Linked DNA regions of Homo sapiens: region 1 is linked to region 2. Evidence: fine-mapped QTL for protein levels in blood plasma. Region 2 holds a variant in brackets. A gene starts in the other region. All regions are shown on their forward strands.

The links. PIP is the posterior inclusion probability: the model's chance that the variant is causal. Protein levels are from antibody-based Olink assays in UK Biobank. Linkage for the fine-mapping came from a reference panel and not from the study's own genotypes, which makes the PIPs less certain.
Region 1: it holds the start of HMOX1, and the variant in region 2 is fine-mapped to the plasma level of the HMOX1 protein (UK Biobank, PIP above 0.99).

The regions. Positions count from the first base shown.
Region 1 is chr22:35,378,638-35,384,012 of GRCh38, forward strand. HMOX1 (heme oxygenase 1) reads left to right here and starts at 2,459. Exons shown (of 5, transcript NM_002133.3): 1 at 2,459-2,559; 2 at 4,469-4,589. The coding sequence starts at 2,537. RefSeq lists silencers at 2,180-2,259, 2,560-2,729.
Region 2 is chr5:69,384,422-69,389,796 of GRCh38, forward strand. RAD17 (RAD17 checkpoint clamp loader component) reads left to right here. Exons shown (of 19, transcript NM_133338.3): 8 at 376-512; 9 at 1,622-1,674; 10 at 1,759-1,884; 11 at 1,975-2,044; 12 at 4,613-4,724. Among named protein-coding and RNA genes, the nearest start is that of RAD17, 17 kb to the left of the region's middle. The variant A/C (reference allele first, on the strand shown) is at 2,288.

The sequences.
Region 1 (5,375 bases), not on the chromosome of region 2:
AGAAAGAGACCTTGAAGCATCTATTCATTCAGGCATGCATTCAGTATTAACTGTGACCTACCAGGCACTATTCCAGGAACTGGGAATTTACAAAGCAAAGTAGTAGGCAAGGTCTCCACCTTTGTGCTTTACATGCCACTGTTGGGGCTCAGAAAGTGATACCAGGACAACTGGTGCTTTGACATGATGAGAGGCCTTAGGAGCTGCCTCAGAGTCAAGGTCCCTGTAAGCTTGTCTTGTTCCCCCGACAAGCACAGGGAGAGACGCTCTCTGGAATTTCCTTATCTGACCAAGAACACTTCTTTACAAAAGAAATGCAATTGTGTTAAGTCTTTTTTTCCTTTGAGACAGAGTCTCGCTCTTGTCACCCAGGCTGGAGTGCAGTGGCACTATCTTGGCTCACTGCAACCTCCTCCTCCTCCCGGGTTCAAGCGATTCTCCTGCCTCAGCCTCCCAAAGTGCTGGGATTACAGGTGTGAGCCACCGCGCCCGGCCAGTGTTAAGCCCTTTTTCTAGTAATCTCATCAAATATCCAGGAAAGATCAACCACTGGAGAGAGAAAGAGACTGGGAGTCATCACCAGACCCAGACAGATTTACCTGTTCTTCTGAGGACAGTGCCAAGAGATTACCTGGGGGACTTTATCTGCCTAGGACAACCTTTGTCCCTGTGCGGCTCCACCTCCACCTTCCCTTAAAGTCGGCCTTTCACCTCCAGGGCCATTCCTTCTTGCTAATGATTTACTGTCTTTCAAAAGAATTGTCTGCATTCCCTATCTCCCTTCTCCCCTATAAAAAAGGCTGGGTAGCCTCTGTACTCCACTGGGTTACAGGGTCACCATTCTTCCGTGATTACCCCATTACAATACATTTTTGTATGTCTTTTCTCCTCTTAACCTGACTTTTGTCGGTTGGTTTTCGGGGAACCTTCAGAGGAAGAAGGGGAATTTTTTTCAAGGCCCCTTAGCTCACCCTTGGGAGGATGATCCTTTCCAATACAATCTCAGAAGTGCCTCTGGGCTGTAGTGGCCCTAGGCTGAATTCCAGGAAGTTTTTTTTTTTTTTTTTTGTTTTTTTTTTTTTTTGAGGGACAGCGTCTTGTTCTGTTGCCCAGGTTAGAATACAGTAGCGTGGTCACAGCTCACTCCAGCCTCTACATCCCAGGCTCAAGTGAACCTCCAGCCTCAGCCTCCCAAGTAGCTGGGACCACAGGCATGTGCCACCATGCCCAGCTAATTTATTTTATATTTTGTAGAGACAGGGTCTCCCTATGTTGCCCAGGCCAGTCTCGAACTCAAAGCAATCTTCCCACCTCGACTGGGCTCAAAGCGCTCTTCCCACCTCAACCTCCCAAAGTACTGGGACTACAGGTGTGAGCTACCATGCCAGGCCTGAAAGCCATCTTAAAAAAAAAATCTTAGAATGAGAATCACAGTATTGGGAAAGGACTGTATGAATCATCTGGTCCATTCGTTTTGTCCTCTGGGTTCACCCAGTGACCCTATTTCCCCCGAGTTCTAAGGAGTCCACCTCATGCAGAATTGATTCAATAGGCGATCAGCAAGGGCCAGCTCTGCTCTGGGCCCTGAGCAGGCACTGAGTATAAGTCAGACCTGAATGTGCCTGGAAGAGTGTCCCACGCATTCCAGCAGGGAAGCAGTTTGTATGACAGGTGTCCCAGTCCAGGCGGATACCAGGTGCTGCCAGAGTGTGGAGGAGGCAGGCGGGGACTTAGTCTCCTCCCTGGGTTTGGACACTGGCATCCTGCTTTATGTGTGACACCACTGCACCCCTCTGAGCCTCGGTTTCCCCATCTGTAAAATAGAAGCGATCTACCCTCACAGGTCAGTTGTAGGGATGAACCATGAAAATACTAGAGTCTCTGTTTTTTGACAGGAACTCAAAAAACAGATCCTAAATGTACATTTAAAGAGGGTGTGAGGAGGCAAGCAGTCAGCAGAGGATTCCAGCAGGTGACATTTTAGGGAGCTGGAGACAGCAGAGCCTGGGGTTGCTAAGTTCCTGATGTTGCCCACCAGGCTATTGCTCTGAGCAGCGCTGCCTCCCAGCTTTCTGGAACCTTCTGGGACGCCTGGGGTGCATCAAGTCCCAAGGGGACAGGGAGCAGAAGGGGGGGCTCTGGAAGGAGCAAAATCACACCCAGAGCCTGCAGCTTCTCAGATTTCCTTAAAGGTTTTGTGTGTGTGTGTGTGTGTGTGTGTGTGTGTATGTGTGTGTGTGTGTGTGTGTGTGTGTGTTTTCTCTAAAAGTCCTATGGCCAGACTTTGTTTCCCAAGGGTCATATGACTGCTCCTCTCCACCCCACACTGGCCCGGGGCGGGCTGGGCGCGGGCCCCTGCGGGTGTTGCAACGCCCGGCCAGAAAGTGGGCATCAGCTGTTCCGCCTGGCCCACGTGACCCGCCGAGCATAAATGTGACCGGCCGCGGCTCCGGCAGTCAACGCCTGCCTCCTCTCGAGCGTCCTCAGCGCAGCCGCCGCCCGCGGAGCCAGCACGAACGAGCCCAGCACCGGCCGGATGGAGCGTCCGCAACCCGACAGGCAAGCGCGGGGCGCGGGACGCGGGACGGGCGCCTTTCTCTCCCAACCCTGCTTGCGTCCTAGCCCCACCCCGGGACACTGCCACACAGCGACAGAGCCCAGGAGCCAGAAACTTGGGCTCTGGAGTCAGGAGGTGCGGGGTTCTGATCCTGCCTGTGCCCGTAGGGTAGTTGGAGGGAGGAACGGTAATTTACATGCCTGGCACCCTGGTATGCGGTTGGTGACCAAGATGGGAGTGTCCCTAGAGTATCCAGTCTTTGAGGTAGCCAATTTTTTTTTTAATCCTACTTTCGAGGTGTGTTTGGAGTTGCTCTCTGCTGAATCTAGATCTCTGGGGCTCTGCCAGCCTGGGGGAGCATGCTTGGTTCTCTTGGTGGCATCTGTCCCTCACTAGCTACGGAGGACCTGAGCCAGACATCACCCTGGCTGCGGTGTTCCATGTCTCACAGATAGCCCAGTTCAGGGAGGCGACATGCCCAAGAGTGCTCAGTTAGCTGGTGTCAGAACTGGGCCTTGAACCTTGGTCTGCCCACCTCCAGGTCTCACTCATTCCCTTCTTTCAATAATTTGTTAGTATTTTTTTTTTTAACTCCTGGGCTTAAGCATCCTCCCACCTCAGCCTCCAGAGTAGCTGGGACTTACAGACATGTGCCATTTCTCCTGAGACTTTGACCAGCTGTGTTGTAGAACAGGGAAGCAGGGCAGGAGAAAAGGGAAAAATGACAATTCTGTGGGGAGGCAGGGATACGGACCCATGACAGAAATACTCCCAGAAAGACTTTTTCTTTGACTAAAGCAGACTTTCTCAGGCTTTTTAACCCTGACGCCTTCATGATGAGCATAACATGATAGGGGGTCATGAGATTTGCATCTGGAACTTTAACAAAATAACTGAATTAAATATTGGGTCTAAAAGCCAATCAAAGCAATTACAAACTTGGAGATGCCGGTTCATGGGGCTGCTGCTTCTTCCTGGGTTATGCTGTACCTCCTCCTCCTCTCCACTGCGAACTACCTGTACCAGGATTTCCCCCTTGGTTTGGGGGACTGTATTATTTAGTGTTTTAATGACTGAAGAGTGTTTACAAAGCTGCGAGAGCCACCATGCCCAGCCTGAATTTGTTTTTTGTTTTTTGTTTTTTTGTTTTTTTGCTTTTTTGCTTTTCTTTTTTTGAGATGGAGTGTTGCTCTGTTGCCCAGGCTGGAGTGCAGTGGCGCGATCTCGGCTCACTGCAACCTCTGCCTCCTGGGTTCAAGCGATTCTCCTGCCTCAGCCTCCCAAGTAGTTGGGATTACAGGCGCCCACTACCATGCCCGGCTATTTTTTTTTTTTTTTTTGTATTTTTAGTAGAGATAGGGTTTCACCATGTTGGCCAGGCTGGGCTCAAACTCCTGGCCTCAGGTGATCTGCCCGCCTCAGCCTCCCAAAGTGCTAGGATTACAGGCGTGAGCCACCATGCCTGGCCCTTTTTTTCTTTTTTTTTCTTTTTTTGAGATGGAGTCTCTCTGTCACCAAGTCTGGAGTGCAGTGGTGTGATCTCAGCTCACTGCAACCTCTGCCTCCGGGATTCAAGCAATTACAGGCATAATTGCTGGGATTACAGGCACCTGCCACCATGCCCGGCTAATTTTTGTATTTTTAGTAGAGACGGGGTTTCACCATGTTTGCCAGGCTGGTCTCGAACTCCTGACCTCAGGTGATCCACCTGCCTTGGCCTCCCAAAGCGCTGGGATTACAGGCGTGAGCCACCGTGCCCAGCCACAAGGCTGCATCTTAAAGCGATTGAGAACGTGGCCTGAATGAGGATGGGAGTCTCTTGAAGGCCTGCCCACAGGTGGGAGGCTCAGCAGTTGGGAAGGACCCCACCCCCAGCCAGCTTTGTGTTCACCTTTCCCATTTCCTCCTCAGCATGCCCCAGGATTTGTCAGAGGCCCTGAAGGAGGCCACCAAGGAGGTGCACACCCAGGCAGAGAATGCTGAGTTCATGAGGAACTTTCAGAAGGGCCAGGTGACCCGAGACGGCTTCAAGGTATGTGGCTTGGTGGGACTAGCCCTGGTGGAGGGTGTGGCAGGTGTGGGTGGACCCAAGGCTCAGACCAGTGGTTTAAGTGGGGATGCTGAGGGACCAGATGGGCATGTCCAATAGAATCATCTTAAAAATGATGACACTGAGGCTCAGAGAGGGAAGGTGAGTTACCCAAGGTCACACAGCAAGTTCAGCCTGCTCTGTAATGTTGTGGAGGGGCTGGGGCAGCAGTGCCGTTGACTGAGCACCGGTTCCATGTTGGGCATTTTGTACACGTGGTTTCTAATCTGTGCTTCAACCCTGACGAGAAAGATGAGGACTGGAAGGCTCAGAGAGGTTCAGTGACTAACAGAAGGTCACACAGCCAGTAAGTGGAAAAGGCTGAAATCAACCAAGACCGATTTCAGCCTTGTACTCCTTGTATTTCAGAGCTTGTACTCCTGATCTAACTCGAATTTGCCTCTGAAGATAAGGAATAATATAGGTTGGAGTCTTAACAGAACCCTTTTCTAACAGTGAGACTGAGGGTGCCTCATCTAATCTCCCTAAGCCACGTTTTCCCCATCTGTAAAAGAGTATTTCAACAGCAGGGTTTTCTTAAGCACCCACTATATGCCAGGTACTGATTTTGCTGTTTCCCAGCACTGTTGTGAAATTCATGCAAATAGAAGGAAAGCACTTGATGAAGAACCGGGAAGATACTGGGTGTTAAAACATCAGCGTGGGGAAGAGCTTGTTCAGGTTGAACAGAGGGTGTGGGGGTGGGGAGTAGGGAGCTATATCCCACCA
Region 2 (5,375 bases):
CCTCTGCCTCAGCCCTGCAAGTAGCCAGAACTACAGGCACAAGCCTCCACACCTGGCTAATTTGTGTATTTTTTTGTAGAGACCGGGTTTCACCATGTTGCCCAGGTTGCTCTTGAATTCCTGAGGTCAAGCGATCCACCTGCCTCGGCCTCCCAAAGTGCTGGGATTACAGGCGTGAGCCACTGTGCCTGGCTACATGTTGACTCTTGTCCTTTGAAAGGAATATCCTATTTTAAATTTAAATGATTTTTCCTAATTGGGAAATAGTCTACAGTATTGTGAGATGCATCAAGTATGTGTGTGTGTACATACAGATGTATAATATTAATGTATATCATTTGTTGAAAATAAAAGTGGTTATGTGTTTCCTTTCAGAATCAAGCTTCCATATGTTTCCCTATCAGTCTCAGATAGCAGTTTTCAAAGAGTTTCTACTAAGAGCGACAAAGTATAACAAGTTACAAATGCTTGGAGATGATCTGAGAACTGATAAGAAGATAATTCTGGTTGAAGTAAGGACAACTTTTAAAATCTTTTTTTTTTTTTTTTTGAAATGGAGTCTTGCTGTGTCACTGTCACCCAGGCTGGAGTGCAGTGGCGCGATCTCAGCTCATTGCAAGCTCTGCCTCCCAGGTTCACGCCATTCTCCTGCCTCAGCCTCCGGAGTAGCTGGGACTACAGGCGCCCGCCACCACGCCCGGCTAATTTTTTGTATTTTTTAGTAGAGACGGGGTTTCACTGTGTTAGCCAGGATGGTCTCGATCTCCTGACCTCATGATATGCCCACCGTGGCCTCCCAAAGTGCTGGGATTACAGGCGTGAGCCACCATGCCTGGCCTAAAATCTTTTTTTTTTTTTTTTTTTTGAGACAGAGTCTCTCTTTAACCCCTAGGCTGGAGTGCAGTGGTGCAGTCTTGGCTCACTGCCACCTCCGCCTCCTGGGTTGAAACAATTCTCATGCCTCAGCCTCCCCCGAGTAGTGGGGATTACAGGAACCTGCCACCATGCCGGCCTAATTTTTGTATATTTAGTAGAGATGGAGTTTTGCCACGTTGGCCAGGCTGGTCTCAAACTCCTGACCTCAAGGTAATCCTCCCGCCTTGGCCTCCCGAGTGCTGGGATTACACATGTGAGCCACCACACCCAGCCAACTTTTAAAATTTTGCTGTAGCTATTGACTAAACAATTGTGAGATATATCTTACATGATAATGTTAACTTGTCTCTATAGTAGTGATATTGGTAAAATACAACACAAAGGCTTTGTAATAGTAGAAACCTAAAGTCTCTTCTAGTAAACTTGAATGGAATAGCTGTAGGATAAGGAATGTTATAAATTTTAATGGTTTAAGTATAGAAAAACAAAAGAAAAGTTTGGAAAATTACTTCCTAGTGAAAATACTGTAACTGGAAAGCAACCCAAAGAAATTTGATCTAAAAATTGGGATCCCCATTGATGTATATTACTGTTTCGGATATCATCTATTTCATGTTTCCTGTGAAAGTTCTGTTTAAAATACATTGAATAAATATATTTTTGCCTACCTCAATAAATATAAATTTGAAAAATAAATTTGCAATGGAATAAAACTATACTATTATTTATTTTTTATTTTCAATAGGATTTACCTAACCAGTTTTATCGGGATTCTCATACTTTACATGAAGTTCTAAGGTAGGTTTCAGTGAAGTATTCTAAAACTCCAAATTAAATGAGAAGTGGCTTAAATTTCAACATTGCTGTATTTTGTTATTTTAGGAAGTATGTGAGGATTGGTCGATGTCCTCTTATATTTATAATCTCGGACAGTCTCAGTGGAGATAATAATCAAAGGTTATTGTTTCCCAAAGAAATTCAGGAAGAGTGTTCTATCTCAAATATTAGGTAAGAAAGAAATTTCTGCTTATAAAGGTCACATACATATTATATTTTTAAATTAATCATTTAACTGCTATCTTTCTTTATAAAACTTAGTTTCAACCCTGTGGCACCAACAATTATGATGAAATTTCTTAATCGAATAGTGACTATAGAAGCTAACAAGGTAAGTCTCTGATTAATTAAACCTTACTCGATAACTATAGAAAGCCTAGCTTAAATAGTATTATGTAAACTGAAGGAGTGTTATTTTAATTTTTTAGAATTAAAACATTTTATTATACTCATAAGGCATGTCATTTTAGCAAATGTAGGAAATACTGATTTTAAAAATCTTTAACATTTTTCTACTATTAAACTTTCACTTTCACATTGAGGTAAATTTTTCCTTTGCTTGGTTTACTGTTCT[A/C]AATTGTGTCTGTCATCAAGAAAATGTTTTCTGGCATGTAGGTATGGTAGTTATCAACAATTCAACTCTTCCTATTGTCCTGTTGTCACTTTTTTATTTTCACATTTTTTTTAATTATGGTGAAAAACATGTATCATAAAATTTATCATCTTAACCATTTTCAAAGATACACTTCAGTATTGTAAAGTCTATTTACATTCATATACAGCTGTTGTCACTTTTTTTTTTTTTTTGGAGACAGGGTCTCACTCTGTTGCTCAGGCTGGACTGCAGTGGCATAATCATGGCTCACTGCAGCCTCGACCTCTTGGGCTCAAGTGTTCCTCCCACCTCAGCCTCCCAAGCAGCTGGGACTACAGGCTGGTACCACCACGCCTGGCTAATTTTTTAATTTTTTTTAGAGACAGGGTCTCTCTGTGTTGCCCAGGCTGGTCTCGAATTCCTGGCTCAAGTGATCCTCCCTCCTCGGCCTCTGAAAGTGCTGAGATTTCAGGCATGAGCCTCTGTGCCCGGCTTCTTTTCACTTTTAGTACGTCATTTTTTCTGTATTTCAAATCAAGATGATGTTAAAAAAAAATTGATGGACCTTCTGCTCCCAGCGTCATGGTTTTAGGGAATCCTATTGGTATAAATCAACCAAATCTTGCATGAAACATAATTTTTGTTGCACTGCTAGGACCACAGGAACTGAGGGAAATATCCAAGGGAGAGGTTGTTTTGAGGATTAAATACGTTAGTGTAGAGCACCTAACTGAATAAATAACAGATATTAATAGTGAAAAATGAGAAACAAACTGAGTCCAATAATACAGGAAGCAATTACTGTGATGAATTATTATGCTATTAGTGTTTTGAAAATATTTAATGGGTCAGGTGCGGTGGCTCACGCCTGTAATCTTAACACTTTGGGAGGCCGAGGTGGGTGTATCACCTGAGGTCAGGAGTTCATGACCAGCCTGGCCAACAGGTGAAACCCCATCTCTAATAAAAATACAAAAATTAGCCGGATGTGGTGGCGGGTACCTATAATCCCAGCTACTCAGGAAGCTGAGGCAGGAGAATAGCTTGAACCCAGGGGGTGGAGGTTGCAGTGAGCCGAGATTGCGCTACTTCACTCCAGCCTGGGCAGCAAGAGCAAAACTCTGTATCCCAAAAAAAAGAAAAAAAATTACCTGGGCATGGTGGTGTGCTCCTGTATTCCCAGCTACTCAGAAGCCTGAGACAGGATGATCGCTGGAGCCTAGGAGTTTGAGGCTGCAGTGATCTAGATGAAATGACTGTAGTCTGTCATGGACAGAGCTAAACCCTGTCTCTAAAAAAACATCTACATTCTCTACTATAAGCATGAGAACTGCAAATTGAGCCATGGTGCATGCCTGTAGTCCCAGCTACAAAGGCTGACAGTGGTGGGAGGATTTGTTGAGCCTGGGAGCTCAAGACCAGCCCAGGTGTGATATAGTAAGACCTTGTGTCAAAACAAAAATTTTTTTTTTAGTGAATTGATTAGTTCAAGTGGCTCTGGTTTAAAAAAGAAGAAGAAGAAATAATTGGTGTAATTATGGCTTTTTCATCCTCACCAGACTGTATAATGTATAACCCCAGTAAAGGAATTTTCATGTAAATTTCATAAATTAGTTAGATTATTTTGTGTATATTTAATTTTATCACAGTCTGTTGCATTTTGAGGGTTTTTTTGTGTGTACACATATATGTTGTTATATATCTGTGTGTATGTAGTGAGAAAGAGTAAAAACTTCAAAATACAACCTGGTCAAAGTGAAAAAGTAAAATAATACAGTATTTAATATTTCCTGAAAGTATACCTTAAACTGTAATAAGTCATTGAAGCTTGTATCATTCATAGACCAGTGTTTAGCATGAAGGCTTTTTAGTTTTTTATTACTATTTTAAGATAATTTTTTTTTTCTGGCTCTATTGCCCAGGCTGGAGTGCAGTGGCAAGATCATAGCTCACTGCAGCCTTCATCTCCAGGTCTCAAGTGATCCTCCCATTTCAGCCTCCCAAGTAGCAGGGACTACAGGCGCATGCCACCATGCCCAGCTAATTGTTTTGATTTTTTGTAGAGATAAGGTCTTACTACCTTGCCTAGGCTGGTCTCAGACTCCTGAGCTCAAGTGATCCTCCTGCCTCAGTCTCCCAAATTGCTGAGATTATAGGAATGTGCCACCGTGCCCAGCCCTTTTTAGTATTTAAGTTTAAAAGAATCTAATTTACGTTAATTAAGTTTAGAAAATAGGTTGGGGTTTTTTGTTGTTGTTATTTTTAAGAAAATACTTTTTTTTAAATTTAATTTTCTTATTTTAGAATGGAGGAAAAATTACTGTCCCTGACAAAACTTCTCTAGAGTTGCTCTGTCAGGGATGTTCTGGTGATATCAGAAGTGCAATAAACAGCCTCCAGTTTTCTTCTTCAAAAGGTAACTATGGAAGATACAGTCATGTGGCATTATATAGGTGACTGACTTTCTCTTAATTCATTCAATGAAATCAAACATTTTAACTTACATTTGGTCTATACCTATTTATCCTTCTTTATTACTGAGACAGTGGCTTAAAATTAAATATATACACATGCATACATACCCTTCTATGAATATGTCGTAGTATATATCCTTGTTTCTGTTTGAGATAGTTTACCTTTCAAAGTTAACTTAGAACCAGATTTCCTGGATAAAAATTCTGCCTCTGCCACTTACCAGTTATATAGGCCTATGCAGGTGACTCTTATCTTTCTGTGCCTCTGTTTTCTCACCTTTTATGTGAGCACTTACCTCTTAGGGTTCTATGAAGAATATGTGAGGTGACACTATTATAGAGTGCTTCTTACAGTACTTGATTCATATTAAGTGTTCATAAATGGCCAGCCATTAATCAGTTTAATAATACTGTGCCGAGGTAGGTTTACTTTTGGAATTATTATTATTTATTTTGAGACGGAGTCTCGCTCTGCCGCCCGGGCTGGAGTGCAGTGGCATGATCTTGGCTCACTGCAAGCTCCGCCTCCCAGGTTCACAGCATTCTCCTGCCTCAGCCTTCTGAGTAGCTGGGACTACAGGCAGCTGCCACCA